4 linked regions of the Homo sapiens genome follow. The protein of the gene in region 3 interacts with the protein of the main gene of each other region in a pairwise test. Each region holds a gene or a part of one and is shown on either strand. Other genes may lie near its edges.

The links.
Region 1: the proteins of RBM17 (region 3) and U2SURP interact in binary tests that used the Homo sapiens proteins (3 or more experiments, as listed by UniProt).
Region 2: the proteins of RBM17 (region 3) and CCDC170 interact in binary tests that used the Homo sapiens proteins (3 or more experiments, as listed by UniProt).
Region 4: the proteins of RBM17 (region 3) and IQCN interact in binary tests that used the Homo sapiens proteins (3 or more experiments, as listed by UniProt).

The regions. Positions count from the first base shown.
Region 1 is NC_000003.12:143,018,331-143,025,936, reverse strand, and holds part of U2SURP (U2 snRNP-associated SURP motif-containing protein), read right to left. Parts: intron 5,969-7,606; coding exon 5,901-5,968; intron 5,339-5,900; coding exon 5,244-5,338; intron 4,588-5,243; coding exon 4,552-4,587; intron 4,465-4,551; coding exon 4,382-4,464; intron 3,441-4,381; coding exon 3,275-3,440; intron 3,085-3,274; coding exon 2,873-3,084; intron 1,963-2,872; coding exon 1,919-1,962; intron 1,454-1,918; exon of another isoform or gene 1,389-1,453; intron 1-1,388.
Region 2 is NC_000006.12:151,566,795-151,574,400, reverse strand, and holds part of CCDC170 (coiled-coil domain-containing protein 170), read right to left. Parts: intron 1,228-7,606; coding exon 910-1,227; intron 1-909. UniProt on the Homo sapiens protein: Plays a role in Golgi-associated microtubules organization and stabilization.
Region 3 is NC_000010.11:6,105,567-6,113,172, reverse strand, and holds part of RBM17 (splicing factor 45), read right to left. Parts: intron 7,033-7,606; coding exon 6,935-7,032; intron 4,488-6,934; coding exon 4,431-4,487; intron 3,188-4,430; coding exon 3,046-3,187; intron 964-3,045; coding exon 812-963; intron 1-811. UniProt on the Homo sapiens protein: Splice factor that binds to the single-stranded 3'AG at the exon/intron border and promotes its utilization in the second catalytic step. Involved in the regulation of alternative splicing and the utilization of cryptic splice sites.
Region 4 is NC_000019.10:18,270,847-18,279,416, forward strand, and holds the start of IQCN (IQ domain-containing protein N), read right to left. Parts: upstream 3,607-8,570; 5' UTR 3,557-3,606; intron 1-3,556. UniProt on the Homo sapiens protein: Essential for spermiogenesis and fertilization. May be required for manchette assembly in elongating spermatids.

The sequences.
Region 1 (7,606 bases), on a different chromosome or scaffold from region 3:
ACTTTTGTGGCTCTATAATGCCCTATTTCAGAGTACATGAACAATAAAATAATCTATCTCAAGGTGACTATAATTATTTTCTCATAGCTTTCAAACAAACCTACTTAAAATGAAATCTCTCCATAGTGAAAAAAATTTAAGCCTAAAGGAAGTAAAAAAAATTGCATCACAGTTTAAATCTTTACAAAGGGGAAATCATGCATTTAAAACTACTAATTCAACCTCAAATTGTCAAAACAAAAAACTAAAAACATTGCTTAATTTTCTATTTAAAAATTATTTCTCTTTCACAGAAGTAATTGCTCTGCAAATATGCAGTTCTTCAGCATTCATATGGTTAATGACATTATTTTGAAGGAAGGGCGATAATGTAAAGTTATGATTCAATTCCAAAACTCCCCACTGATAGGAGCCAAATTAAAGCTAAGGGAAATTTTATGTATAAGACTAATTACTAGGTGGACAAATGTTATACATCCAGAAACTTGTGTGAATTAAGTCAAAAGCAACTTGACTTTAGCATTTAAGATAGAGGAAAATTGTTTAGCAAGTTTAAAAACAAAGGATTCATCCTAATGGTGAGTGAAGACTTTCGGCAAAACGCACACTCAAAATTTTGTTTAGAAATAAGCTGAGCCACATACATGTAAAGCTACCACTAGATATGTGCTTTTTTTGAATGCTACAAAAATACTATCCTGTGAATGCTTTTATCAGTGGTGAAAAACCCACTATAGTTTTAAACAGGCTTGTAACTGATAAATCTATTTTTAGAAAATTAAAAGTTTATAAGTATTTTTAAAATGTTTCATGATTATTTAAAATCAAAATCTGACAATTAATTGTTATTAACTTGATGTCAAGATTACTAAAGAACTGTAATCACATTCTTCTTCCTTAAGGATTGTGTTTATTTTAAAAATGGTGACTTTTCTATTAGAATAAAACAGTGTAGTACAAAAAGATGATATATTTAAAGTGCATTATTTAATTTTAAAATGGTAATTATCTTATTCTGGGCAACAATAACCAAAAAAAAAACAAAAACAAAAAATTGTCTCTCAGTTATAATAAAACCACATTTATTGGAGTCGATCGTACCAATGTCTGGTCAAAAACTGTATACTTTCCCAATCCATCCCATGATGTTTTCCTGGTCCCCCGCTGCCGCAGACAGTTCAGCTGGTGTTGCTCACCAAGGCCAATGTCAAAGAGAATTTGGTATTCTTTTGTGTTCATTTATTATTCAACCAGTGTTGTGTTCCTGTGTTTGGGAAAAGGCTTAGCTTGACTGAGCAAGAGCATACCTACAGCATGAATTCTTCTGCTTTAATAGTGTGTTGAAAGAGAAAAAAAGGAAGAAAGGAAAATAAAAGAATTCCAAATACCTTTGTTACCATGAAAAGAAAGTTTCTAGTATGTCCAGTGTTCATGACAATAATAGGAATTTCTTCTTAAAATCAATTGAAAAAACAAAAAACAAAGCTATGCCTTCAGTAAGGAGAACTCAAACCAAGGTTATATATTAAATGCAGATAATTCAGAAAACAAGAAAAAAATAACAACAGATTGGGTCAAACTGTAACGTTATCTGAAATTTACGACACACTTAAAACATCTATTTTCCCATGACAATAGTCTATTGTCTGACTCCAAATCAGAGCTAATAAATACACTCTAACTAGTCAAACTATAAACATTCCCTACAGTGATAACAATAAAAACAAAAAAAGATACTGACATAAAATTGCAAAGTATACAAAAGTTAGTTAAATTTCACACATCCCCCCGCAAAAAGTACTGGGAAGGAACCATTGCTCAGTCAAGATACTACCTTTTCCTCAACACCATTTCTTTTTAAATTCAGAAGGGGATATTGTCTATATTTAGATCAGTAATAATAAAGAAAAACATGTACCTTTCTGTTGGGATAACCACTTTGACTATGGCTTGCGACAGAGTCTGTATATGAAGTCACATCAGATAATAAACATAGAATATGTGAGTATTGTTAACAAGTAACAAGCAAAAATATACATATGCATTGAAAATACTACATATCTAATCACAAGTTTTGCAGGCAATCACTGCATTTGAAGTCATTATACACTAAGCAATTACATAAATGCAAATGGATGTGTTCAGTGAACAATAAACGTTCACCAAATGCAAAGAATCAGAACATTCCTGCCAGAATGCACATCAATGCACTGAAATAGGTACTACACTGAGAATTATCAGATAAAGATTTTAATTTGTGAAATAATTAACTGTTTGCCTCTGACCATACAGTTCGCTACTTTGTTCCCAAGCCTTTAAAACCAGCCCTGTCATTTTAAGTGTAATTAATTCATAATAGAACCAACGAATTCTTATAACTTGAAATTAAGTTGGTTTTATTTACTAAAAAGAAAATACTCACCCTTTGCTTTTACTAGATTAACTATTTTTTACAAACCACATAAATCTTCTCAAATATTCTAATACCTCAGATCTAGCTGCCATCCAAACAATAACTACTTAGGAGGTCTTTCTAATTGAAATGTCACTTAACCAAATACAAAGTATCACTTTCTCAGAACAAAGTAAATTTAGTTAATACACTTAAGCAAATCTGGATACAACACTGGACAAAGGAAAAAAAACTTAACAAGTGGTCAAAAAAGGAATGGTAGCCACAAATAAAAATATGACCTAGTATTTCAAATATAGGGTTTCCATGGGCTAAGGCAGGGAACACATCTACTTATTTCTTTAAAAGTTGCCAAACAGAATTACACACACATTTTCTATAAAATTGTTGAAAAGAAATACTACCACAGCTTTAGTATTTACAAATTAGATGCGGCCTTATGTCCATTTTTTAAATTACCTTCTCAAAATCCTCTTTGTTTTTAGGTGGCGGTAACATAGGAGCATTAGGGTTTTTTAACCGCTCTCTAGGCTGCGCATTAAAAGGCAGTCCGGATGGAGGTGGGGGAAGCGTATGTTCCATCATAGAAGGCGGAATGTATATTGGATGTGGAGGAATAGGTACAGCTTTACCCCAACCTAACTTCATTTCAAAAGACATAATCATTTTTCCTACAAGAAAGAAATGAAAGGTCATTTTGTTAACTCTCAAAAGTTTCCAAACAAAATTTTTCTGGTGAGTTGAAATAATTTTCATTTTAACCTCTCCATTTCAGGTCCAATCCTTCCTAGTTTTTATAAATACTTTTCCAAACCAAAGAAATATCTGAATTGTATAAATGGATAATAAAAATGTTCTTACCATTCAAATTTTTTAAAGCTCTTTCAGCATCTCTTCTATTCATAAAGGCCACAAAGCCGCAATTTCTCTCTCTGGCTCTTTCTTCATCAGTTCTAGGCCACATGATTTTCACACTGGCTAACGGTCCAAATCTTCCAAATTCTTGGCACAGCATTTCTTCATTCATCTATTAAAAAGGGTAAAAGATTTTTATTATGCAAAAAAGGGAAAAGAAAAAATTATTTTCAGAAAACAAAGTAGTTTTTACAAAATAAAAAGCAACATAGCAACGTGCTTCAATTTTCCATTTAAGTACCAGGAACGCCACACAAGTAAAATCCCGCGTGGGGCATTCATAAATCATTTCATACTATAAATATTCTGGTTTATTTAAGATGCCAGGGTGGGGAAGTTCAGTGGATGAAGAAATCAAAATCATTTTTACTCTCTATCTTCCTTTGTTTTAAGGTCCTGGATCTAAGTAAGATGTTTTATAGTGATGGTTTGTTTAGGCATTTAGTAACATTTTTCAAGCAGGCATGGTTAGTACATTTAAATTAAAGAGGAAATATGTATTGACAATGAAGAAAAAAAGTATCTAATCATCTGTTCTAACAATCAACTACCCATGTAATCAAATGCAGAGAAAACAGGTAACAGTATATATGCAAAATATAATTTTTAATAATAGCATATTATATACTACCGTTACTACATTCCCCATATCATAATTAACAGCACCAATGCAGGAAAAGAATTAAAATATAAAAGACAAACCACAAAGAGTAGTTTACTACTATGAGAAGAAAAAGGGACTCCACAAGGAAACAAGTATGCATCAGAAGTGGACAGTCTCAAAATAATATTATTCATCAATGGTCACACCCTGATTTAATAATAAAATCAGCACCTAGTAAAACATTTCAAATCCAGAGTTCAATCTAGTTACTGAAAGAGGAAACAAGAATATGTGGCAAGACAACCTGGGCCATACCAGTAAGACAACTCTAAAGACTATCCAATTCCATCAGATTTGTCAGCTTCAGAATCTTGATTTTTTTTGACTAACAAAGCTTTCTTCCAAAAGCATAAAGCATATCAATCAACATTCATCTTACTTAATATTACCTGTGGATTAATGTTTCCAAGGTATAAATTAGTAGTGCTTGGATCTCCTACATCATGTGAGCCAGGTGCGTAATCATCAAGAACTAGGGCAGAAAGAAAAAAAGAATTATAACCTGCAAAACATAAAGTTTGGAAAATTTATCGATTAAAAGAGCAAAAAACTGTATTACCACCAGATGATCTATTTCTTCTTGAAGGCGCGTCCACTTAAAGGGGAGAAAAGAAGACAATTATTAGTTTTTATAATACAGTAGTCCCCCCTTACCCTCACCTTTGTTTCCCCCAGTTTGTTACAGTAAGGTATTTCTGAGAGACAAAAAGAGAGACCACTTCACACAACTCTGTTGTTGTTGTTGTTGTTTTTTGAGACAGACTCTTGCTCTGTCGCCCAGGCTGGAGTGCAATGGCACGTTCTCGGCTCACTGCAACCTCTGCCTCTCAGGTTCAAGCAATCCTTCTGCCTCAGCCTCCTGAGTAGCTGGGATTACAGGCACGCACCACCACGCCCGGCTAATTTTGTATTTTTAGTACAGACAGGGTTTCATCATGTTGGCCAGGCTGGTCTCGAACTCCTGACCTTAGGTAATCCACTTGCCTCGGCCTCCCAAAGTGTTGGGATTGCACATAACTTTTATTTCAGTATATTGTTATAATTGTTCTATTACTTATTGTTGTTAATCTCTTACTGTGCCTAATTTACAAATTAATTTTTACCACAGCTATGAATGTGTAAGGAAAAGGATAGTATATATCCATGGTTTCAGACATCCACTGGTGATCCTTGGAATGTAACCCGCCACGGATAAGGTGGGAACTACTGTAATTAATCACAAGCATACACATTAAAATAAATGCCACTTACTAGAACGACGCTGACCATCAGAATCTGACTGAGGAGGTTCAAATCGACTTAATCTGCCTTTTGTTTTATGTCTCTCATCACGTTCCTCTTGAATTCTGTTGAAAATATTTACAATCACTTATAATGAGCCAAAATTTGTTCATTCACATTTCAGAATAGCGCTTATCAAATTACTATCATCAAATAACTAGAAATATCTGTAATTAAATACTGGTACTGATAACCAAGATTAGAGGGTCCCTCAGCTATAATACAACCACGAGCAAATTTCTGATATATCATACTACCAATGGAACACAAAGCCTACTTTAAAGGTGAGGAGGAAATTAAACACTAAAACCACTGAATTTGTTTCTTGCTAAGTCTAACTGCCCCTCACTCCCATCCCAGTGAGTATACTGTTTCCACTGCAAACAGGACTCTGGACATTAAGTAAATCAATTGAACTGAATCCTCGTAATGCAAGCAACCCAGGTGCTGGACTAAATGCTAATTTATTTTCAAAGATAGCCCACCAAATATTATAATATCTAAAACAATCTCATAGCAAACTGGTTAGTAATAACTAACTGGTACAGTATATTCTTTATACTTGCATCTGTTTATGTATCAGCTCAATACACCTATGATAGTTATTCTCCACACTATAAAACTTACTGCTTTAATTCTTCTTTGAAGAGTTCCAAATTGCTTTTTTTCTTTTCTTTCTCTCCTTTTTTAAGTGGCTATAAAGGATATGACAAGTTATACTTCAAACAAAAGGATAAGCAAAACCAATGATTCAATAATAAGAGCCTTTTTACATCATTTCAGTACAAATTGTATGTTCTAATTATTTAAATTAAAAAGGAAGAATGCTTTTCTTATCATTGAACCTCCCTTCCCCTTCCTTCAAAATAACAAACAATTAAATTATTACTACAATTAAACAATTAAAATGACAACCAGTAGTCAGGGAAATTAATGAACATGAAGTAACTGAACTGCCATGGAAAGTAACTGCCAAAAATACGCACTCTTCAAAAATCACCTCTGGAGGACATGAGTTACTGGAACAGTAAGTAACATCTTTGGAATCCTCTTTTAAAACTGCTTCTTAATCTACTTTTGGAATCCTTCTTTTAGAAGTGCCAACATAATTTAATAGGGAAGAATAATCTTTTCAACAAATGGTGCTTGGACAACTGAATATCTACATACAGAAAAATGAAGTTGGACTTCTACTTTACACCATATACTAAATGTACAAAAATTAACTCAAAATGGTTCATGGACATAAAAGTAAGAGCTAAAACTATAACACTTTTGGGAGAAAACCACAGGAATGAATATTCATAATCTTGAATTAGGTGATGGTTTCTTAGATATGACACCAAAAGCGTAAACAAAAGAAAAAAACTGATAAATTGGACTCCATTAAAGTTTAAAACCTCCATGCTTCCATCAAGAAAATGCAAAGACAACCCAGAGAACAGAAAACATTTCCAAATCATATAGCTGATAAGAACCTTGACTCAAGAAGATGTAAAATACTCTTACGATTCAACAACAAAAATACAAATAACCCAATTAAAAAGTGGGCCAAGTATCTGAACAGACATTTCTCCAAAAGAAACTTATAAATGGACAATAAACACATGAAAAGATGCTCAATATAATCAAGTACATGCAAATCAAAACCACAATGAAGTACAACTTCACACACACTAAAATGACTAAAATAAACTTTTCAAACAAAATAGTTTTGTTTGTTTGTTTGTTTGTTTTTGAGATGGAGTTTCGCTCTTGTTGCCCAGGCTGGAGTGCAATGCTGTGATCTTGGCTCACCACAACCTCTGCCTCCCGAGTTCAAGCGATTCTCCTGCCTCAGCCTCCCGAGTAGCTGGGATTACAGGCATGCACCACCATGCCCGGCTAATTTTGTATTTTTAGTAGAGACGGGGTTTCTCCATGTTGGTCAGGCTGGTCTCAAAGTGTTAGTGTACGACGTGAGAAAACTGGAACCCTCATACATTACTGGTGGAACTGTAAAGTGATACAACCACTTTGGAAAAACTGGCAGTTTCTCAAAAGGCTAAACATAGTTACCATGTGACCCAGCAATTCCACTTCTCGGTGTGTGTATATACATGTATCCAAGAGAACTGAAAACATAAGTTCACACAAAAAAAGCCCACACATGAATGTTTACAGCAGCATTATTTCTAACAGCAGAAAAGTGGAAACAATCCAAATGTCCATCTACTAAGTAATGCATGGATAAACAATATATGGTATGTCCATAAAATGGAGTATTATTCAACCACAAAAAGGAATGAAGTACTGATTCATGCCACAACAAAGATGCACCTTGAAGCATTATG
Region 2 (7,606 bases), on a different chromosome or scaffold from region 3:
AGGCCGTAAACTCAAGAACCTACCCAAGCTCACATGGACAGTGAGTGAATGTACAGCAGAGACGGGATTCAGCACCAGGCAGGTCCAACTCCAGAACCTGCATCACAGTTAGATGTGGCTTGTGGGACTGCCATGCCTTTCCATTAAAATGGAAATTAATACAACCACATTTAAATTATACTTTTTTTAGAGACAGGATTTGCTCTGTAGCCCAGGCTGGAGAGCAGAGACGCAATCATAGCTCACTGCAGCTTCAAACTCGTGGGCTCAAGAAATTCTTCCACTTCAGCCTGCCAGGTAGCTGGGACTTAATTTTTATTTTCAGTAGAGAGAGGGGTCTCACTATATTGCTCAGACTGGTCTTGAATTCCTGGCCTCAAGTGACTACATTGGCCTCCAAATGGACTGGGGTTACAGGCCTAGGCCACCAGGCCTGGCCTTAAGTGATGCTTTTAGCTAATTGAGATAAGTCACTGATATGGTTTGGCTGTGTCTCCACCCAAATCTCATCTTGAATTGTAGCTCCCATCATCCCCACGTGTCGTGGGAGGGACCTGGTGGGAGGTAATTGAATTATGGGGGTAGCTTTTTCCCATGCTGTTCTTGTGATAGAGAATAACTCTCAGGAGATCTGATGGTTTTATAAAGGGCAGTTCCCCTGCACACTCTCTCTCTTGCCTGCCACCACGTAAGATGTGCCTTTGCTCCTCCTTTGCTTTCTGCCATGATTGTGAGGCCTCCCCAGCCATGTGGAACTGTGAATCCATTAAACCTCTTTGTCTTTATAAATTACCCAGTCTCGGGTATTTCTTATAGCAGCGTGAGAATAGACTAATACAGTCACTGAGCATGCTAAATGAATGAGCTCACTGTTCTTAAGATGTCTGTAAACAGCCATGACCCACTCACCCGGTCCCTGCTTTCTTCCCGGCTGTCCATTTCTCGAATCTTCTCCAAAATGGTGTCCTCAGTGGACCCAGTCATGCTCAATCTGCCCCTAAGGAGGGCTGCGATTTTCTCCCTAAATGAGAAGTACTGGCTTTGTGAGGTTGTGACTGCATCCTGACTGGCCTTCAAACTCTTCTCCAACTCAGAAGAGCTTTTCTTCAGGAGGCTCACTTCCTGCTTTGAGGCATCCCAGACCTGCTGGCCAGCAAGCAGCCTTTCTTGGAAGATCTTAACTTCCCTTTCAAGAGCTTCTTTTGCTTCTACAGCACTGAGCAGGTCCTAAAATGATTACAGAAAGTGAAGACAATACCATTAGAAGTCAACAGGGTACACCTGCATTTGCTATGGCAAATTCATTGACTTTGCCTGCTAATGACTACAAGGGGTTGGGTTAATTACTCCTTCCATTTTTAACTCCAAGTTCCCTATAGTCTCCTCATAAAGTTATTAAATCCCAATGGTATGTCAGGAAAATTTAGGTGTCTTAAAAACAGAAAATGGGGCCAGGCGTGGTGGCTCACACCTGTAATCCCAGCATTTTGGAGGCTGAGGTGGGTGGATCACTAAGGTCAGGAGTTCAAGACCAGCCTGGCCAACATGGTGAAACCCCACCTCTACTAAACAAAAATACAAAACTTAGCGGGGCATAGTGGCGCACACCTGTAATCCCAGCTACTCGGGAGCCTGAGGCAGGAGAATTGCTTGAACCTGGGAGGTGGAGGTTGCAGTGAACTGAGATCACTCCACTGTACTCCAGCCTGGGCAACAGAACAAGACTCCATCAAAAAAAAAAAAAAAAAAAACACAGAGAAGGGATATAAAATATAAAATCTGGGTTAGAAAAAAGAAGGAAACTTTGACACATAAGCCTTTTCTGTGTGGAATACTGGAAAGAGTTAATAAAAACAAATCATTGGATAACATATTAGTAGATTCAGTCCATATGTAGAATATGTTTATAGAACTATCTTTCTCAAGCTTGGTGTATACGGAAATTTATTTTTAATAAACAGTAAGCTCTCAGAGTCCTAGCTAGGCACTAACAATTATTTGAATAAAGATGCCCCCTCAATGCTATTTTGAATAATAGAGGAATATTCTCATAAAAACATCATTGCATAAAACTATTCATTGACTTCCAATATCCAATATTCATTGCATATCCCCTTGTCTCATAAAGACAACGCAGAAAGAACCTGAAGAAAGGAAACAGAAACAACTAGCCATTTGGTAGGTGGGAGGATTAAAAGTAGAGGGAAAGTATCATACTTAGAAGAATAATCTTAAAGAATATAATATGGGCTGGGCACAGTGGCTCACTCCTGTAATCCCAGCTCTTTGGGAGATCGAGACAAAAGATTGCTTGAGCCCAGGAGTTGGAGACCAGCCTGGGCAACTTGGTAAACCCCCATCTTATATAAAATAAAATAATTTGCCATGCATGGTAGCATGTGCTATGGTCCCAGCTACTTGGGAGGCTGAGATAGGAGGATTGCTTGAGCCTAGGAATTCAAAGCTACAGTGAGCAGTAATTGCATCAGTGCACTCCAGACTTGGTGACACAGCATGACCTTGTCTCAAAATAACAACATAAGAACATAACATGTGAAATTAGGTTCAGAAAAATAATGAAGGACATAAAGAAGGTTACCTGTGTACTTAATTCTATTTACCATAATCTAGAATGGCCCACAGAGGCACCAAAGGAGGATTTTTTTTTCTCCCGGGACGGAGTTTCACTCTTATTGCCCAGGCTGGAGTACAATGGCACAATCTCAGCTCACCATGACCTCCGCCTACTGGGTTCAAGTGATTCTCCTGCCTCAGCCTCCCGAGTAGATGGGATTACAGGCAAGTGCCACCACGCCCAGCTAATTTTGTATTTTTAGTAGAGACAGGGTTTCTCCATGTTGGTCAGGCTGGTCTTGAACTCCCAACTTCAGGTGATCTACCCGCTTCGGCCTCCCAAAGTGCTGGGATTACAGGCATGAGCATCTTTAAAATTGATTTTTAAAATTATTTTTTAACATCAAGTTCCAAAATACATGAATTCACATTAAGAAATATTAAGCGGCGTGTTAACTAGCATGGCTGTAGTATTGCTACCTAGTTAACTGGTAAAAAAAAAAAATTATTAAAAATAGTATGTTAGAGGTAAAAAGCACTAAAAAGAAACACAATATTTTTAAATAACAGACTCTACATCTAAATGAGCTGATAACATTTCAGGCTGCCAGTTAAAATGCAGTCACCTCTTTTGCATTAGAACTGGGCTTTAAAAGAAATTTCTCTCCATTAACAGCTTGGAAACAGGAAAAAGGATAGCCTGAAACACTAGTTCCTATTTTTTATAGGAAACATAACATCTTATTTTTTCCATTATGGTGACTTTTTTAAAATCAAGGAAGTCTCAGGCATCAATTTGAAAGAAAAGTCACAGAGTAGATATGTAGTTAGAGAAGCCTGCCCTTTTCAGAGATGTAATAACTCAACTAATTATGGAATCTATTTTGTAAAATGCCTTTTGCTTTTCAAGGTCTTGGTTTCCCCTTTCCTTTGCTAAACTAGTCATGTCTGTAGAGAAGCCCCACTGTTGCTGCTAATTAAATGACGGTCCTTAAAAGTAGAGTCAAGGACACTTTATCACAAATTCAATATTTTAACAGTTTACAGATTTCTCTTCAGATCATAATACAATATCTTCTCACTTGCTCAATTAGAGTAACTAGTATCAGTAAAGGTGATAATAAATTGGGGCATATTTTACTTGGAAACTACGGTCGTTCCTTGGTATCCTTGGGGAATTGGTTCTAGGACCCCGGAAGATATGAAAACCTGAGGATGCTCAAGTCTCCCATATAAAATGGAATAATATTCTCATATAAGCTACACATATTCTTCTGTATACTTTAAATCATCTCTAGATTACTTATAATACCAAATACACTGTAAATGCTAGATAAATAACTGTTATCATGTGTTGTTTTTATTTGTATTATTTTTATTGTTGTTTTGTTATTTGTATTGGCTTTTTTCCATATTTTTTTATCTATAGTTGGTTGAATCCACAGATGTGGAACTTGTGGATGCAGAGGGTCGACTGCACAGTCTGATGTGTGGTTAGAAAATTGAGGTCCTAAATTCAATGATGCTGGGATGGAAATTAATCCTAATCACTTTAGAATTCTAAAACCATATGGAATATTATATATTCACTAAAGACCCTCAAAATACACAAAATATATCTCAGATGCTTGTGACTTATGGAGTTACTGTCAATTTGGAGTAGACAACTCAACTGGCAGCCAACACCACAAGACCAATAAACACAATTAAAATATTTCAACTATGAGGAATTTTTCTACCCCAATATCATACTAATGTTTCACTGACTTCAAGAAAAGGGCCAAAACAATCCTCTCTAACAAATCCAAAGAACGTTTTCTTTTTAAACCTAGGCATCAACATTTATGTCTAGTGAAAATCACAAAATCAGTTTGTGTTCATAGAATACAATGGTGTCTGTGAGCAAGTTGGGTTTCTCTTTTTCAGGCACATTCAGCTCAGTGAACCCTAAGCTGTTTCTTGTATAAAATGCAGGACTCGAGAGCCAGAGTGACAAGGCCTTGGGGATGGTCGCTCCCTTAGTGCTCTGATTAAGTGCTGCAGGATTCAGGGGCACAGGGCTGATCTTCTGGAAATAAATGTCCTCAGACTGCAAATGCAATTACTTGTTCACCTATCAGGAGAAAGCCATCAGAGTGGATTCTGGTTCCATGGCTACCTCAAGGATACGCCGAAGCAAGCGGCATAAAATAATGTGACATCAGTACCACTGGCCAGGACCTGGGGATTGCTGTCAGACCACACTGACATACAGGACAAGAAACATAAAGCTTCCTGTGAGCAAAACCAAGACTGACCTCCACAGAGGAAATCACAGAGGGCAGGCCCTATAGACTGTGATGGGGATCACTTAAAAAATTTTTTTATAATTAATAAGTCTTTAGGTTCAGTCTGACTGAAGCGACAAATGTAAAATGATTCTTTCAAAATTACTTTTAACAAAAACTTTAATAAACAATATGATTATGGCATTCAATTTAGCTTCCCATTTAAATGCACGAGTCTGCATTAAGTAATGAAACCATCCAAAGGTTTGCGTTTTAAAAACACAATTGATTCCTGTTCTGTTGCTATTTTATGGATTTAGATACACATGAGATCAAATTGCCACTCAAAAGTACAATGATTATCATCAGGACAGAGAACCTGTGGCTTGAGCTTAATTCCTTCAATCCTAGATCAATTTTATAAAATAAAAAAATCAGTTGGTTAATTCTACCTACTGCAGTTATGATTAACAAAAAAACTCAGAAATTCCCCCAAACAGGTAGTCTCATACATTGCTGGTGGCAATGTGAACAGGTATAATTTTGGTATAAATTGTTGGCATAAATACATAACAAAACTTAATATGCACTTATCTTTTGGCCCTGAAGTTCCAGTCCTGAGGATATATCTATAAGATAGGTTACTAAATATAGAAAATGAGGAATATGTAGTTATCCAATTATAATATAGCAAAAGACAACATACTACATGAATATTCTTTGATATGTAACTTCTTAAACAAATATGAGACATCCATACTATAGAATATGATGTAGTCTTGAAATGAAATGGGGAAGTTCTTTATATACCAATATGAATGATTCTCCAAGATACAGTTAGTGAAGAAAGTAAGGTGTTTAATAGTGCATCTATACAAATAACAATGGTACATAGTATAGTACCATTTGTACCTTTATGAAAAGAATATCTCTAGAAACATGCACAAGCAACTGCCAATTCTCATCACCTCTAGAGAAGGGAATTGTAGCCAGGGGTTAGGAATGAAAGGAAGATGTGATAGAATAGTGGCAACTATGAAAACACCGGGGAATTTTAGTCCATTTAAAGTGTTGAGTCAACAGTGATATGAGCACAAATATACACATGCACATGCACACACCCATTCCCCCCTTCCCAAACTTGGGCTGCATTCACAAAAGTAAAGTATTTAGAATGAGAGAGGTGATGTCCTGCTCTATTTCCTTCGAATTACACCAAGCCTGAAGTTTGGCATTCAGTTCTGTGATTCAAACTTTAATACAGACAAAACCCTCCTTGGACAGCACTATTCAAACTTACATTCTGGTACCACTCCTGCACCTGCTGTTCACAGTCCCAACAAGATCATTTCAGAAATTGAGGGTAAGATATTAGCAATTTCTATAGCAAGTTGACACTGATGCAACATCCAAATACCATAGACTCCCTTTTTTTTTTTTTTTTTTTTTTTTTTCAGAGTCTCACTCTGTCGCCCAGGCTGGAGTGCAGTGGCATGATTTCAGCTCACTGCAACCTCCGCCTCCCGGGTTCAAGCGATTCTCCTGCCTCAGCCTACCGAGTAGCTGGGGTACAGGTGCGTGCCACCATGCCCAGCTAATTTTTGTATTTTTAGTAGAGATAGGGTTTCACCGTGTTGGTCAGGCTGGTCTTGAACTCCTGACCTTGTGACCCGCCTGCCTGCCTCGGCCTCCCAAAGTGCTGGGATTACAGGTGTGAGCCACCGCGCCCAGCCTATACTCCATTTTTGAATGAAGTATGTACCTATTCACTCTTTGTTAGACTTGTGTGGTAAGTGGCTAGTGGTGAGAGTTGCTATCTGTTGTACACTGAAGGAACAGGCTACAGATGTGATATTTTAAGGCTGGTTTGCCAACTATAATCTAAATAAGTATATAAAATCCAGAACCCATTTCTTTCCTCAAAAGAATTTCATCATATTTAAACATAACTATACCTTTACAAAATAAACTAATAGAACTGTTGACAGATGAAGGATTGAAGATGGATTTTGAAAACACATTTGTTTCAGACGGGTATGGTGGCTCACACCTGTAATTCCAGCACTTTGGGAGGCCAAGGCAGGTGGATTACTTGAGCTCAGGAGTTTGAGACCAACCTGGGCAACATGGTGAAACCCTGTCTCTATCAAATATTTTTAAGAAAAAATAAACAGAAAAAAAAGGAAAGCTGAAATTACAATTGTTTAATTTGAATACAAGGTACCTACAAATATATTGAGCTTGTTGAAATTGCTTTAAAATCTATTCTCAACAAACCTCTGTTAGATTTGTTTTCTACTGTAAGTATCTGAAAAGCAAAACATAAAAACAGTTTCACAGGGGTCAGGCACGGTGACTCACGCCTGTAATCCCAGCACTTTGAGAGGCCGAGGCAGGCTGATCACCTGAGGTCCGGAGTTCAAGATCAGCCTGACCAACATGGAGAAACCCCGTCTCTACTGAAAATACAAATTAGTTGGGTGTGGTGGTGCATGCCTGTAATCCTAGCTACTGGGGAAGCTGAGGCAGGAGAATCACTTGAACCCAGGAGGCAGAAGTTGCAGTGAGCTGAGATCGCACCATTGCACTCCAGCCTGGGCAACAAGAGCGAAACTCAGTCTCAAAAAAAAGAAAAAATTTCCTATACAACAGGCACTGAAAGCAACATTGTCATCAATCCAACCAAGATTAACTAAGTGAACTAGCAAGAAGCAGCTGATTGTCACAAACTTTAAATACTAACATAAGCAGTATTCATTCAAAGT
Region 3 (7,606 bases):
AAGGTCACGGGCCCAGGGGAATATGCAGTTACTAATCCAGCCACCGGCTGCCTTACTTCAGATAACCTCACAAGTCGGGACAACTGTTGGTTTCTGGCACTCACCTGTCAGGCTCGTGATGTATCCTAAGCTGTGCATGAACGGGGCTGCCAGAAAAGTTTTCTTCTTTCTTTAGCAAAGGAAGTTCAGCTAGGCTGACTCAAACTTAATTCCCTGATTAAAATGCTAACATATGTTTGTCTCTTTCCTGAATTCCCTCAACACAGAACAGACTGTAAAAATTAAATGAAAATAAAACACCAACTAGGCATCATTTACCAAGAGACTGCAACATAACATCAGATCTCGCAAAGCAAACAATCTGTAAGAGAATCAGAAATCACATCTATACTGAAAGGGCAAAAGGGAAAAGTAGAGACGACCTCTGAGATGGAGATAGCAGGTATATTCACTGCCACACTATATGGCTCTGTCCTTCATGCTCTAAACACATAACCAAGATTTCTTCCTGAGGACTACTCATTTTCTGCCCAAGTCTCTCACCATCTTTTCCTCCACAAGCCTTCATCTCTCTACGTCTGTTCTGAAAAAATAAAGATGAGCCTCAGGATTCCTGGTTTCACAAAACGGAAGTGGCAGTGCATCATATGAACAGGACGGCCTGTGTTCTAGTGATGGCAGGGCCAGCCCTCTCCCTCTGGCCACACGCCTCATTGTCCCCCTGCTGACACATGAGGATCAAGACTGGCCATGTCTGATATGGATGGGGCCAGTCCTTTCCCTCTAGTCACACGCTTCCCTGGGGACACACCTTTCTCTGTGGCGTCGCCCACGATGATCTTGCCGCCACGCTTGCTGGTCTTCTCCACTGACAAGGCAGTGCTCAGGCCCTGCTCATGCTTCCCCAGACCCTGGCCCTCCCGGAAGCCGTACTTCTGCATGATCTTGTGCGCCACCGTGCCCCTGGCAGGAGAAGAAGGGAAAGGACTCTTAGCCTTGACATCGTCAACTGGAGATAGGTTGCATTTTTCCATCACAACAACCTCCTTCTGGAGAGAGTGCATGCTCCACAGGGGCTTCAACAAAGTCACTCATTAACTAGGAGTGGGCTATTAGATGGAAGCTGTGGGGATGTGCAGCATGAAAGAAATAGAAAAAGCTATGAATAAAATCCAGAACATCCTGTTGTCTTGGAGGGGAAATGTCAGTTTCTCTGGTGGAGTCTCCTCAGTGCCCTGCTAGGAAACACAAGACCTTTTGTGTGCTCCGGACCTGCACTGCCACATAGCTTATGACCACAGTTTATTAAAAAGTGGCTATCAAAAAGTAAGTATGAAGTTTCGTACAATGAAGATGATCCCATTTTCCTAAATAGCACAGGAGAGTTTCCAATGACAGACTATACAAATGAAAGAACCCTTAGAGATCACCTATTTAACAAATGAGAAATAAACGGAGGCCAAGATTAGCTGACTAGCTTAAGGGGTGGACTTAGAAGTAATGCAAGACGCCATATTAGAAATTATTTGTACAGGCTGGGTGCAGTTGATCACACTTATAATCCCAGCACTTTGGGAAGCCGAGGCGGGTGGATCACCTGAGGTCAGGAGTTCAAGACCAGCCTGGCCAACATGGTGAAACCTCATCTCTACTAAAAATGTAAAAATTAGCTGGGCATGATGGTGTGCACCTGTAGTCCCAGCTACTTGGCAGGCTGAGGCAGGAGAACTGCTTGAACCTGGGAGGCAGAGGTTGCAGTGAGGCGAGATCGCACCACTGCACTCCAGCCTGGGCGACAGAGCGAGACTCCATCTCAGAAAACAAATAAATTATTTGTACAGCTGTTAATGGTAGAGCTGAAACTGGACCCCACAACTCTCAGTCACTGCTTTCTGTAACAACCAAATGGCTCTCACACTGCGCTCTGAGGCGCAGCATGGGTCTGAAGGGCACCCCAACCCCATGACCACTGCTGCTTAGGGCTTAAGCCACAAAATCCCGCTTCAACTGGAACTGCACCTACATTACTTCTTGTATTTAATTCCCTTAACATTTTCATTTGAACAAGCTATTCTAGGGCTAAAAAGACCAGAAACTGCTGAATGGTACCATCTTGCATCTTTCCTAAGCACAAGTTAAAGATGTAATTCCTGGTTAAAAGCAAATTCGCTAAAAAGTCAGTTTTTATCATAAACAGGGAAAACAAAACAAAACAAAACAAAACCAGCTTCATGTCTGTCCAACCCTCCAGTACACAAAGCTTCCTGCAGCCACGGCCATGTCCTATGTCTGCACCATCCAACATCGTCACCACTTGCATGTGGTCACTGAGCACTTGAAAGGAGACTAGTGAGTTTCAACCCCACTCACTGTCTCACCGGCTGCATTTCTGCTACAGGCAGCAGCCAGCAGATGCAACACAGCACAGAACAAAGCCTTCATGTGATACTGCTTCATGGGACAGCCGTCTCACAGGATCAAAGTCAACAACACAGAATATCCTCTTAACCAAAATGTTTGCCAAGCCCAGCACAGTTTAAAAAAATCCCCAAGCCCCACCTGAGCGTCAGCCTTACAGTCAAATTTTATATGCTGGCAAACATGTCAACTTGTAGTTAGAATGACCCCGAGTTTTTTAGACCAAAGGTTTAGAACCATGACCTGAAAGCAAATGGCCCACTTTATCAGGAAAAAAAAGGTATCACCTGCCCTTTGGAGACAGTAAGTCAGCTCTGATTCATATGAGCTATTTTATTTGCAAACGTTATGAAGGCAAATGTAAACATTAATCAGGTTCTGTGCCTGTCTAGGAAAATAATGTTCAACATCAAAATGAGTCAAAACTTCTACTGGGAGGTTGCTGTTTTGAACAAGCCCCATCATTACACTGGAACACGCTCCACACGATTGAGGCAGGTACCGTGTGACCTGCACACACCAAGGGTCCTGAATGTCCTCAGTTTCAAACAAGCTGCATCTATTGAAAGGGCTATCAACGCTTCACACTGTCTCTCAAGTCCTTAGATAAGAACATTAAATCATTACCCCATGTTAGCGAGGAAGGAGTTGCTAGGTCCGGTTGGAGATCTCGGTCTGTCTTGTTCCTCGTACACTGGGGGAGGAATGGCTGCTTTGGAAGACTGTGATCGAGGTCTTGAGTCCTCTTCATAAGGAAAATCTCGGGGTACTATTGGAGAAAAATAAAGTAGGCTCACCAAAATACTATAGAAAACACTCTGAAACCTCACTTGTATCAATTATTTATCTTGAACAAATTTAACCTACTTTTTGGTTTACCACAAGGAGAGAAAAACACCAAATCAATTTTACAGCCTTTATACGACTTTTTTTAAAACCACAGAGGGAGGACGCTACTTTCCTGATTCTAACTTTCCTTTTGCTATTTCTATCTCCTCAAACGTCTTTTTTATATCTTACTGAAATGTTATTCACCCTTTAAAATCTTCTTGAATGAATATTCTTGCCGGAAAGATGTTCTGTATGTTCTAAGGAGATACAATCTGGCCATCTTTTGACTCCTGCAGTAACTTGGGTGCACCTGTCTAGACCCCGACCTCACTATCTCATCAGCTCATGGCCCACAAAGGTGTCCGAGGTTAGGGGCTACGCACTGGAGCGGTGGCTTCAACCCTAGTTAGATGAAAGTCAGTAGGACGCTTTAAGACCATCCAGATGCCTGAGCCCCACTCCCAGAGACTAGTTTCAATTGGGGTTTATTGTTTGTCTGTTGTTTTCACATAATAGGTATTTCATAATATCTTAGAAATTATCTTCTTTAAAAGATAAAGAATTCAACAAGTTTTAAAAAGTACTATAAATGAGAATATCTGCTTGGGATAGTTTAAGTATGGTCCAATCCAGAGAATGGGAAAATGACCTAGATGATATTCAGAAGTCCAGTCCCAACCCCCAAATTCTAGAGCAGATCACTGCGAGAAGGAACAGTGGGTGAGGGTGTTTTGGCAACGCAATGACACGCAAACCCACCTGCAGTGAAATGGAACGGGAAGAAAAAATCTAATCAAGGAAGGCATTGCCACCTTGTGGAGGATCATGAATATAACAGCCTCTAAACCTCTGAGTTAAAAAACTGTAACGATCTGCTGTTTTAACTCCAAATGAATCTAACAACAAATAAGAAATGTTAATGAAATCAAAGTGAATTGCATAAAAAAGAGATGGATCCCACTGCATGAAATCCAAGCCTCAGAGCCTGGCGTAGAAAGGTCTCTCTCTGCAGGAGGGCGCTGCATTCTGAGATCCAGGTGCGGCCTCAGGTGACAGAGCCAGGCAGGCTTGCAGGCCGTTTCCCTCTACGCTCAGGAAACCTGGGGGCCCAAGCTGAGATCCCCCATGGTTGGGTTAAAGACCTGTATCAGAATAAAAGAGGAAGAAACAGATCTACTTACACTCTTTGTCTTTCTCTACCAGAGAAGTGGGTGGGGCAATGGCAGCTCCGCCCATACCTGCAAAACCACAAATCCAAGCATTAAAGGAGGTTTCCGATGCCAGACTCCCAAACGACTATGACACACCATATATCTATCACCCACCCCCCTAAGAAAAAACTAAAAAAGGAGGACCTGCTACTTCAGATGACCTCCTGCTACATATGAACAAACCTCTGATGCTAGGATTTAAAATGTAGAAAAGTGGCAACACTCCCTCAGATATGCAAAATTGTTCCTTCATAAAAGGAACTCAAGAGCCCCACAATGTAGTCTGCAAATGAATTTTAAGGCAAAACAATACAACCAAGAGAACCAGCAGTTACTTAAAAAGAGAGTAATGTAACTATTTACCGAGAGCAATACCCATTAGGCCCTTTATACACATGGCCTCGTTCAGGCTTCACAGACCTCTGAAGTAGATATTACTGCATCCAGTTTACAAATAAGAGAATGATCAGAGGGGAGTGAATCAACAGAAAGGGAGTAAACCCAGCTCCCTGCGTTGCCATATCTCCCCCACCACACAGCACGCTCCTTTTCCAGTGTGCAAACCACTGGAACTAAACACATATTTGAAAGCGTGGGTCCTTCTGGCTCCTGAAGAAACTGCTGCGTGTTGTCACTATTCCTGGTGTATTTCCTGGACAACGAATGGTGAACACAAACAAACCAAAAGAGATAAGACAGATCTTTTTATCTGGTATCCGACAACTGGAAGGAGAACATCAGTGGAGACCACAAGGAATTTTGCATTAGGCATAAGTCCTAACATATATGGATTACGTATACATAATATTACATAATACATATGTATTATGGCTTAATCAACAATGAAATAAAAACAAAATGTAAAACTTTAAAAATTGATTACAAAGTCATGCTGCATCAGCACAAAATGTTTGACAAAAGAAATTATTCTGGCTGGACGCAGTGGTTCACTCCTGTAATCCCAGCACTTTGAGAGGCTGAGGCAGGCAAATCACTTGAGGCTAGGAGTTTGAGACCAGCCTGATCAACATGGTGAAACCCCATCTCTACTAAAAATGCAAAAATCAGCTGGGCATGGTGGCACACACCTGTAATCCCAGCTACTTGGGAGGCTGAGGCAGAAGAATCATTTGAAACTAGGAGATGGAGGTTGCAGTGAGCCGAGATGGCGCCACTGCACTCCAGCCTGGGCAACAGAGCAAGAGTGTCTCCAAAAAAAAAAAAAAAAAAAAAGAGGCCGGGTGCAGTGGCTCATACCTGTAATCCCAGGACTTTGGGAGGCTGAGGTGGGTGGATCACTTGACGTCAGGAGTTTGAGACCAGCCTGGCAAACATGGTGAAACCCTGTCTCTACTAAAAATGTAAAAATTAGATGGGCGTGGTAGCGCACACCTGTAATCCCAGCTACTCTGGAGGCCGAGGCAAGAGAATTGCTAGAACCCAGGAGGTTGCAGGTTGTGGTGAGCCGAGATTGCACCACTGCACTCCTGCCTGGGCAACAGAGTGATTCCATCTCAAAAATAAATAAATTCATTCTTCTAAAGAATTATTCTAGAAATTATTCTAAAGCCAGTGTCCATGCATTTTGATTAACAGGACTGGATGATATAAAATCCTCAAGGAGAAATATGAACCTGAGTAAAACCTTCTTCTATTTCCTTTGAAATACTTCCATGATCATTTTACTAACCTTGTCACTAGGACCTAGAGTGATTACTGATTCTGAAAAGCAGATTAGCTCTAATAAGTTCAGTTAAAAAAATTCAGGGTGATTACTGGAAATCTGCTACTAATCACATTAAAATAAGAACATCAATCTGTCAACAACTATACATATGATGGGCATGCCACTACCTCCCTATCATGAGCTACAAGGTCAAACAAAGTCTTCTCATTCAAAGCTATCTAGTTCCTGCTGGTGTTTAAGAAAAAAAAACAAATGTCCTTAGTATGGAAAGCATGCCTCCTTATTAAAAAGGGCAGTCAATTTATAAGCTGGAAAAATGAGACCTACAAATATTCAACCTATATACTGAATTCCAAAAGAAGTTAATAAAAACCAAACATTTGGGGATTAACTAAGATAGCGGATATGAAATGTGTCACAATGCCCAAAACAGACACACTCAATGTTAACTATGCTTCCCCCCTAAGAGAAACAACAGAGTGGATTCAGCATCGGCCAACTGGACTGTGCTGCAGGTAAAGACAGTGCAGGAATAGATTTTAAGCTAGTCCCAAAGTATCCAATAAATAAATGTTAGAAAGTGGTTGTGAAGCTCAAAGGAAAATACATATGAAAACCCAATATAAATTAAAACTGTGACGCAAATGTGTATTGCTGGGATTCCAGAAAGAAAATTACCCAAATCAATGTCAAATGAACTATTTATCAAACTGAAAAGAAAAAGCACATAGTGGAATTGCACTTCCAGTATTTATATATGTTTAAGACATATTTGTTCATGCCTTACTTCTTTTCCTCCTCTCTCGCTCATAATCTTCATCTTCATCAGAATCTGGATCTGGTCTCCTTGCAAACCCACTTGCTTCATGTCTGTCTTTACGCCTTCTGTGATAACAAAGGAAATAAATGTTCATCACAGATGAACCAATTTAGAGACCTGAACCTGGGATGACTTCCTCTTGACCAGAAGATATCCAAATCCTGTCACAATCAACTATGAAGTTGCAGGGGTAGAGGGGGTAGGAAGCATAACTGGTAAAAGACTAAAGTAGATAAAAGTATGAAAAGTGAGAAAAATTCAAGAGATAAATTGAACCAATAAGTATACGAGAGCAACCAGCATGAAAAAAAAGGTTCCTTGACATTGACCTCTTCCAATGTTAAAGCCTATCAACATAGTAATAGTTCAATCATTTCAATAGTCTATAACACTTTCACTCATGAAATGATTCAATAAATGGGAAACAGTATATTAATATTTAATACATGTTAACTATTTGATAATACTAAATATTTTTAAAAAGAACTACAAATACATCCTACTACTCGTACTTTGCAAAAACATAAATAAAAGCTGCATATGAATTTTTAAAAATTCCACCTGGCTCAAAAATAGTAAAGTTAAGAAGAATATTTCAAGTACTTTAAATAGCTGTGATTTTACAAGTTGAGAATCCCT
Region 4 (8,570 bases), on a different chromosome or scaffold from region 3:
AGATTGTGATTAAAGAGTAAGTATAAGATAAAAGGTAACCTGGGAGGCCAGGCATGGTGGCTCACACCTGTCATCCCAGCACTTCGGGAGGCCAAGGCAGGTGGATCACAAGGTCAGGAGTTCGAGAACAGCCTGGCCAACATGGTGAAACCCCGTCTCTACTAAAAATACAAAACTTAGCCAGGCACAGTGGCATGCACCTGTAATCCCAGCTACTTCAGAGGCTGAAGCAGGAGAATCACTTGAACCCGAGAGATGGAGATTGCAGTGAGCCGAGATCACGCAACTGCACTCCAGCCTGGGCGACAGAGTGAGACTCTGTCTCAAAAAAAAAAAAAAAAAACCAGGCGCAGTGGCTCACGCCTGTAATCCCAGTGCTTTGGGAGGCCGAGGTGGGTGGCTCACGTGAGGTCAGGAGTTCAAGACCAGCCTGGCCAACATGGTGAAACTCTGTCTCTACTAAAAATACAAAAATTAGCCAGGTATGATGGCAGGTGCCTGTAATCCCAGCTACTTAGGAGGCTGAGGCGGGAGAATCTCTTGAACCCAGTAGGCAAAGGTTGCAGTGAGCTGAGATCATACCATTGCACACCAGCCTGGGTGACTGAGCGAAACTCAGTTCAAAAAAAAAAAAAAAAGATAAAAGGAAACTCTATGTGGTACTTTAGGGCTGAGGGAGTATCCCCAAAAAAGGGGCAAATTTGGAGAGCATTCAGACTTCCTTGGAGAAAGTATGGTCCCGCCTAACAAGTTAACGGAGATAATTGCTGGATCGGCCAAGCCAGAGCTGGTCTGGAGTTGCAAAACAAGCAAAAGGCCCACCCTCCAGGGTGCAGATGTGGGAACAGGTTATCAACAGTTGGTGCTCTGGATGTGCACTGGAAACCTAAGTGTTGCTGGGGCAGGAGGCCTTCAATGTGTATGGGCCACCGTGGGGGCTCTGTTCGTTTATTATCATTTATTTATTTATGATTTTTGAGACAGAGTCTCACTCTGTCCCCCAGGCTGGAGTGCAGCGGCACTCAGCATCTTGGCTCACTGCAACCTCCGCCTCCTGGGTTCAAGCGATTCTCCTGCCTCAGCCTCCCGAGTAGCTGGGATTACAGGCATGAATCCCACCACACCCAGCTAATTTTGTTTGTTTTGTTTTGTTTTGTTTTTGGAGGGACGGGGTTTCACCATGTTGGCCAGGCTGGTCTCAAACTCCTGATCTCAGGTGATTCGCCTGCCTCGGCCTCCCAAAGTGCTGGGATTACAGGCGTGAGCCACCGCGCCTGGCCTTTTTTTTTTTCTCTCTCTCTTTTGAGTTTTGTTCTTGTCGCCCAGGCTGGAGTGCAGTGGCGCGATCTCCTTTCACTGCAACCTCTACCTCTCGGTTTCCAGCGATTCTCCTACCTCAGCCTCCTGAGCAGCTGGGATTACAGGCACCTGCCACCACGCCTAGCAAATTTTTGTATTTTTAGTACAGATGGGGTTTCATCATATTGGTCAGGCTGGTCTCAAATTCCTGACCACAGGTGATCCACCCACCTTGGCCTCCCAAAGTGCTGGGATTACAGGCATGAGCCACCGCGCCCGGCCTTAGGGGCTCTGTTTTTTGTGTGTGTTGAGAGGGCTGCAGAAAGGTTTTCACCAGGTCAAGACTGCAAAGTCACAGGACCACGTTCTGGATCCAGGGCTCGGGCAGGCTTCACCTGGTGTCTTCACACCTCTATCCCTAATGCCTCACCAGCGCCCTCTATTGAGAAATCTTAGCATTGTGCTCACTTTTTTTTTTTTTTTGAGACGGAGTCTCGTTCTGTCTCCCAGGCTGGAGTGCACTGGCACCATCTCGGCTCACTGCAAGCTCTGCCTCCCGGGTTCACGCCATTCTCCTGCCTCAGCCTCCTGAGTAGCTGGGACTACAGGCGCCTGCCACCACGCCCAGTTAATATTTTGTATTTTTAGTAGAGACGGGGTTTCACTATGCTAGCCAGGATGGTCTCCATCTCCTGACCTCGTGATTCGCCCACCTCGGCCTCCCAAAGTGCTGGGATTACAGGCGTGAGCCACCGCGCCTGGCCGAGCATTGTGCTCACTTTAAACAAGACATAACGAAAGAAATTCCTTTGTTTATCACATATTGAAAGGGTCCATTCGGAGACAAGAGGCAATGCATGGATAATTGACACACATATATTTATTATTTTTATTTTTTTGAGATGGACGGAATCTTGCTCTGTTGCCCAGGCTGAAGTGCAGTGGCACGATCTTGGCTCACTGCAACCTCCGCCTCCCAGGTTCAAAGTGATTCTCCTGTCTCAGCCTCCCGAGTAGCTGGGATTACAGGCACTTGCCACCACACTTGGCTAACTTTTGTATTTTTAGTAGAGTTGGGGTTTCGCCATGTTGGCCAGACTGGTCTCGAACCCCTGACCTCAAGTGATCCGCCCGCCTCGGCCTCCCAAAGTGCTGGGATTACAGGCATGAGTCACCATGCCCGGCCTAATTATTATTATTATTCTCTTTGAGACGGAATTTCACTTTTGTTGCCCAGGCTGGAGTGCAATGGCGCCATCTTGGCTCACTGCAACCTCTGCCTCCAGGTTCAAGCGATTCTCCTGCCTCAGCCTCCCAAATAGCTAGGATTACAGGCATGCGCCACCACACCTAATTTCGTATTTTTAGTGGAAATGGGGTTTCTCCATGTTGGTCAGGCTGGTCTTGAACTCCTGATCACAGGTGATCTGCCCGCCTTGGCTTCCCAAAGTGCTGGCGTTACAGGCGTGAGCCACCTTGCCCGGCCTAATTTTTGAATTTTTAGTAGAGATGGGGTTTGACCATATGGGTCAGGCTGGTCTCGAACTCCTGAGGCAGGAAAATCACTTGAACCCGGGAGACAGCAGCTCTGGGAGCTGAATGGGCCCATTCCAGGGGCTGAGGTTTCATCAACCAAACGGTGCAGCTCTTTAGAGGAACTCAACCAGAAGGGGTGAGAAACGGGATTGTGGGGGATGAGAAGAAGGAACAGGGGCCCCCTGGACACAGAAGCCAAGCGACTGGCTCGGTAATTTTGAGTAAACCCCTCTGAGCCTCAATTTCCCTATCTGTCACAAGACATAAGATCACCATCCTCAGGTTGCCAAAGAGACACAACAGGCTCAGCTGGGCGCAGTGGCTCCTGCCCGTAATCCAAGCACTTTGGGGGACCAAGGTGGGAGGATCGCTGCAGCCCAAGAGTTTGAAAACAGCCTGGGCAACATGTCTCTATTTATTTAAAAAAATAATAATAAAGAGACATAACAGGCTCTCCATGATGTCCCCCATCACAGGTGAACAAATCCACCATCAAGGCTTTAGAGGTCCCTAGAGCCCCTGCTGTGAGGGGCCAAGGAGCTGACCCATCATTTGCAGTCACCCAGAAGGCCCAGAAGGGCTCTAAAGGCACTGGGGGCCAGAGGAGAACGACAGGGTCCCCCACGAACCCTCGCAAACAAGTCCTCCACCAGCCCCACTCACCCGCCCCTGAAGCCACCAGCCCCACTCACCCGCCCCCAAAGCCACCAGCCCCACTCACCTGCCCCTGAAGCTAAACCTAGCAGTCTGAACGGCCAGTCTTGGAGCCCTGGTGCCGCAGCAGCTTTGTGACTCAAAGCCAAGTTCTGGCCAATCCCTGGCAGCTCTTAGGGGGTGGGGATTCTAGAAGGCACAGCCAGAGGTTGGGGAACAGGATGCAGGGCAGGGCCAAAGGTCATGGTGGTTGCTACCTACACCGGCTCATCCTGAGTACAAAGGGTTCTCAGCACAGAGGGAACCCCAAATCTCCCCCTCCATGTACCTAGAGGCAGTTTCAGTCTTTCATCCCACGGGCATTTTCTGAGCACCTACTATATGCTGGAATTTGCCCCATGTCTGGGGATACAAACAACTCAAAGAATTTGAGGCTGTAAAATGGCTAGATGGGAAGGGACCAAAAAGGGGGTGCAACGGGCCAGTCAGGGTTCTCACTGATGTCTTGGGTGTGGCTCTGAGACTGCGGGCTCCTTGGGGTGGGGCCGGACTTGATCTCTTGGGATCCCCACTGGGCCCGGCAAAAGTGGGTACTGACCCTGAGCCGCAGCGCTATAAGGGGAAGTCAGGCTGCTGTCCTGGATCACCTCCTGGGGCTGGGCTGGGGCCCAGCATGAGTCACCGCTGGCTGGGCCAAGGCTGACACGCACCTTGGACTCAGTGCAGCTGGCTCCAGCCAAAGCCAGCCTGGCCCAGAAGCCTCTGCCTGGCTTCCTTGGGGAGCCGCTGGGGGTTGCCGGGACAAGAACCAGCAGGGGTGCCTGACCTCCCTCTGCAGCGATCACCCCCTCCAAAACCTTCCCTATACTGTGGGTGTGACTTTGGACAAAATCAGGGACATGGCAGATGGCAGTTGGGTGGGGTTTATATCCTTTGTCTGTTTTTTGAGATTGAGTCTCGCTCTGTTGCCCAGGCTGGAGTGCAGTGCTACGATCTCAGCTCACTGCAACCTCCACCTCCCCGGGTTCAAGCGATTCTCGTGCCTCAGCCTCCTGAGTAGCTGGGACTACAGGTGCATGCTATGACGCCCAGCTGATTTATGTAGTTTTAGTAGAGATAGGATTTCACCATGTTGGCCAGGCTGGTCTCAAACTCCTGACCACAAGTGATCCGCCTGCTGCGGCCTCCCAAAGTGCTGGGATTACAGGCATGAGCCACTGCACCCAGCTCATCCTTTGGATGTTTCATCAGAACAGGTCCCTTCTGTGCTGTCAACGAGCTAAACACAAACTGGGAGTTCTCAGGGCAATTGGAGACCGTAGGAGCCCAGTAAGGTGCTGGCCTAGCCTGAGGGTTACTAGGGACAGGCTTCCGAGGACTGTGCAGCTGAGGCTGGGAGGTGGCGCTCAGCTGCATGACTGGGGGAAGAGTAGCTGGCACAGAACTACAGCTGCAGCCGTGCAAAGACCCTGAGGCCAGGAAGGCAGGATATTGGGAATTTGGGTGGAGAGGCTCCTGAAAGGAGACACTGGCCAGCCCAGGGACTGGTGCAGTCAGGACTTTTTCCAAAAAGGTTTCAAGTAAGGAGTCAGATCTGTGATTTAGAAAAAGCCCTTCACATCACAGCTCATGCCTGCTTGACTCCCCCATCAGACTGGAGGGCTGGCCTCAACTAGGTGTCAATAAATGCTGGGGACGCTGGGCGCGATGGTTCATGCCTATAATCCCAGCACTTTGGGAGGCCAAGGCGGGCAGATCGATTGAGCCCAGGAGTTTGAGACCAGCCTGACCAATATGGCAAAACCTCGTCTCTACTAATAATACAAAAATTAGTCAGGCATGATGGCAAATGCCTGTAATCCCAGCTACTTTGGTGGCTGAGGCAGGAGAGTCACTTGAACCCAGGAGGTGGAGGCTACAGTGAGCCAAGATTGCACCACTGCACTCCAGCCTGAATGAGAGACCCTGACTCAAAAAAAAAAAAAAAAAAAAAAAAAAAAAAGAGGCCGAGTACAGTGGCTCAATACCTGTAGTCCCAGCATTTTGGGAGACCGAGGTTGGAGGATCACTTGAACACAGGAGTTCAAAACCAGCCTGGGCAACATAGATCCCATCTCTACAAAAAAATTATTTAAAAATTAGTAGGGCGGCTGGGCGTGGTGGCTCACGCCTGTAATCCCAGCACTTTGGGAGGCCAAGGCTGGCGGATCATGAGGTCAGGTGATCGAGATCAACCTGGCTAACACGGTGAAAGCCCATCTCTATTAAAAACACAAAAAAATTAGCCAGGCATGGTGGCAGGCGCCTGTAGTCCCAGCTACTCAGGAGGCTGAGGCAGGAGAATGGCGTGAACCTGGGAGGCGGAGCTTGCAATGAGCCGAGATGGCGCCACTGCACTCCAGCCTGGGCGGCAGAGCAAGACTCCGTCTCAAAGAAAAAATAAAAATAAAAATTAGTAGGGCATGGTGGCGTGCACCTGTGGTCCCAGCTACTTGGGAGGCTGAGGTGAGGCAGGACAATCAGTTGAGCCTAGGAGGTCAAGGCTGCAGTGAGCTGTGGTCTTGCCACTGCACTCTGGCCAAGGCAAGAGCGAGACCTCATCTTGTAAAGAAAAAAAAAAACAAACTTGTGGGGCCCAGTGGCTCACGCCTGTAATCCCAGCACTTTGGGAAGCCAAGGTGGGTGGATCACCTGAGGTCAGGAGTTCGAGACCAGCCTGGGCAACATGGTGAAACCCTGTCTCTACTAAAAATACAAAAAAAAATTTAGCCAGGCAGGGTGGCTCACGCCTGTAATCCCAGAAACTTTGGGAAGCTGAGGCGGGCAGATCACGAGGTCAGGAGATCGAGACCATCCTGGCTAACACGGTGAAACCCCGTCTCTACTAAAAACACAAAAAAATTAGCCGGGCATAGTGGCGGGCGCCTGCAGTCCCAGCTACTCAGGAGGCTGAGGCAGGAGAATGGCATGAACCAGGGAGGCAGAGCTTGCAGTGAGCTGAGATCGCGCCACCGCACTCCAGCCTGGGAGACAGAACGAGACTCCGTCTCAAAAAAAAAAATTTAGCTGGGCATGGTGGCAGACACCTGTAATCCCAGCTAATCAAGAGGCTGAGGCAAGAGAATCGATTGAAACTGGGAGGTGGAGGTTGCGGTAAGCCAAGATCAGGCCATTGCACTCCAGCCTGGGCGACAAGAGGAAGACTCAGTCTCAAAAAAAAAAAAGAAAAACAAAGTACGTCCTCCACCTCTCTGCAGGGCTCCTCAGAGTCCTTTCGCCTTAGACCACTTGGGGGCAGGCAAGCAAGAGACCTGGGTTTGAATCGCTGCTCTGCCATTTAACAGGGGTGTTGGCCGGGCACGGTGGCTCACGCCTGTAATCCCAGCACTTCGGGAGGCCGAGGCGGGCGGATCATGAGGTCAGGGGATCAAGACCATCCTGGCTAACACGGTGAAACCCCATCTCTACTAAAAGTACAAAAAATTAGCCAGGCGTGGTGGCGGGCGCCTGTATTCCCAGCTACTCAGGAGGCTGAGGCAGGAGAATGGCATGAACCCAGGAGGCGAAGCTTGCAGTGAGCCGAGACTGCGCCACTGCACTCCAGCCTGGGAGACAGAGCGAGACTCTGTCTCAAAAAAAAAAAAAAAAAAAAACAGGGGTGTTGGGCAAGTCTCAAAACCTCCCTTCCCCTTCTCTACTAATTGGGGGCCACAGTAGGTACCATCATTGAGTGCGGTCACTGTTGTCCGTCCCCTGAGCACCTCCCAGTTCTGACTTCTGACCTGAGAGATGTTATGCTGGATGCAAACACCCGCATCTCACAGCACAGGATGTAGAGGCCATCGGGGGAGGAGGACTCGCCTGAGATCTCACAAATGCCAACTGGAACCTAAGCTGGGTCCCGGTCTCCCAACCAGTGACACTCTGCCCGAGATGTGGTTCTTGGTCTCTTGTGTGTCAAGACACCCCTGCTCTCCCACCTCAGCCTCAGTTCCCTTCAGCAGGTTCCTTCAGGCCCTGCTGAAACGTCTGCATGACCTCCCACAAGGCAACGTGACAGCTAAAAACCAAACCCTGGCCGGACGTGGGGGCTCACGCCTGTAATCCCAGCACTTTGGGAGGCCGAGGCGGGTGGACCACTTGAGGTCAGGAGTTCCAGACCAGCTTGACCAACATGGTGAAACCCTGTCTCTACTACAAATACAAAAAAGTAGCCGAGCATGGTGGGCACCTGTAATCTGAGCTACTTGGAGGCTGAGGCAGGAGAATCACTTGAGCCCGGGGAGGCAGAGGTTGCAGTGAGCCTAGATGGCGCCACTGCACTCCAGTCTGGGTGACAGAGCGAGACTCTGTCTCAAACAAATGAACCCCAACATAGCTGTTGGTGGCAAGGCCTTTCTCCATGACCAAGGGACGGTGGCCATTCTCTCCAAGTTTCTTCATCTGTAAAATGGGTACAATTCAGTGGCCCTCCCTAACAGGGCTGGCTAGGTACACATGGCCACCAGCCCTACTTGCTGTGTGACCTCGGCCACTAATGTTCACATCCCTCAGGGTCCCCAATGAGTTGGAAGCCCAAAGCGCAGGGTCTTAACAGCAAAGGGCAGAGCAGGCAGGAGAAGCAGGAAGCCTCGGGTCAAAGCTCTGAAAGTGAGGGAGTCCAAGGTCAGACTATCTCTGCACAGTCTCCTTAAAAGGCTGTGTGATGTCAAGCCAGTTGCTCAACCTCTCTGAACCTTAGATTTCCTCAAAGTAGGGAGTAGGATGTTGGGAGGAGGAGGAGAAGCGAACTTCAGGGAGATACTTGGAAAATCCCAGTCCTGGAGGCAGACCTCTTGGGTTAGATCCCACCTGTGCCAACTTCCTCCTGGTACTGGGTCCATCAGCTTGTCCTGGGCCTCAGCATCCCCCGATCCACCAAAAGAGAAAAGCTTACACTGTAAGCCAAGCACTGCTCTGTAAACATAAACTCTCTTAATCGTCACAACTTTATGGGGCAAGTTTTTCGACTGTTCTCCCCATTTTATACGGACAGGCAAACCAAGGACCAAAAGGTTAAAAAGTTTACTAAGTTTCTGTCT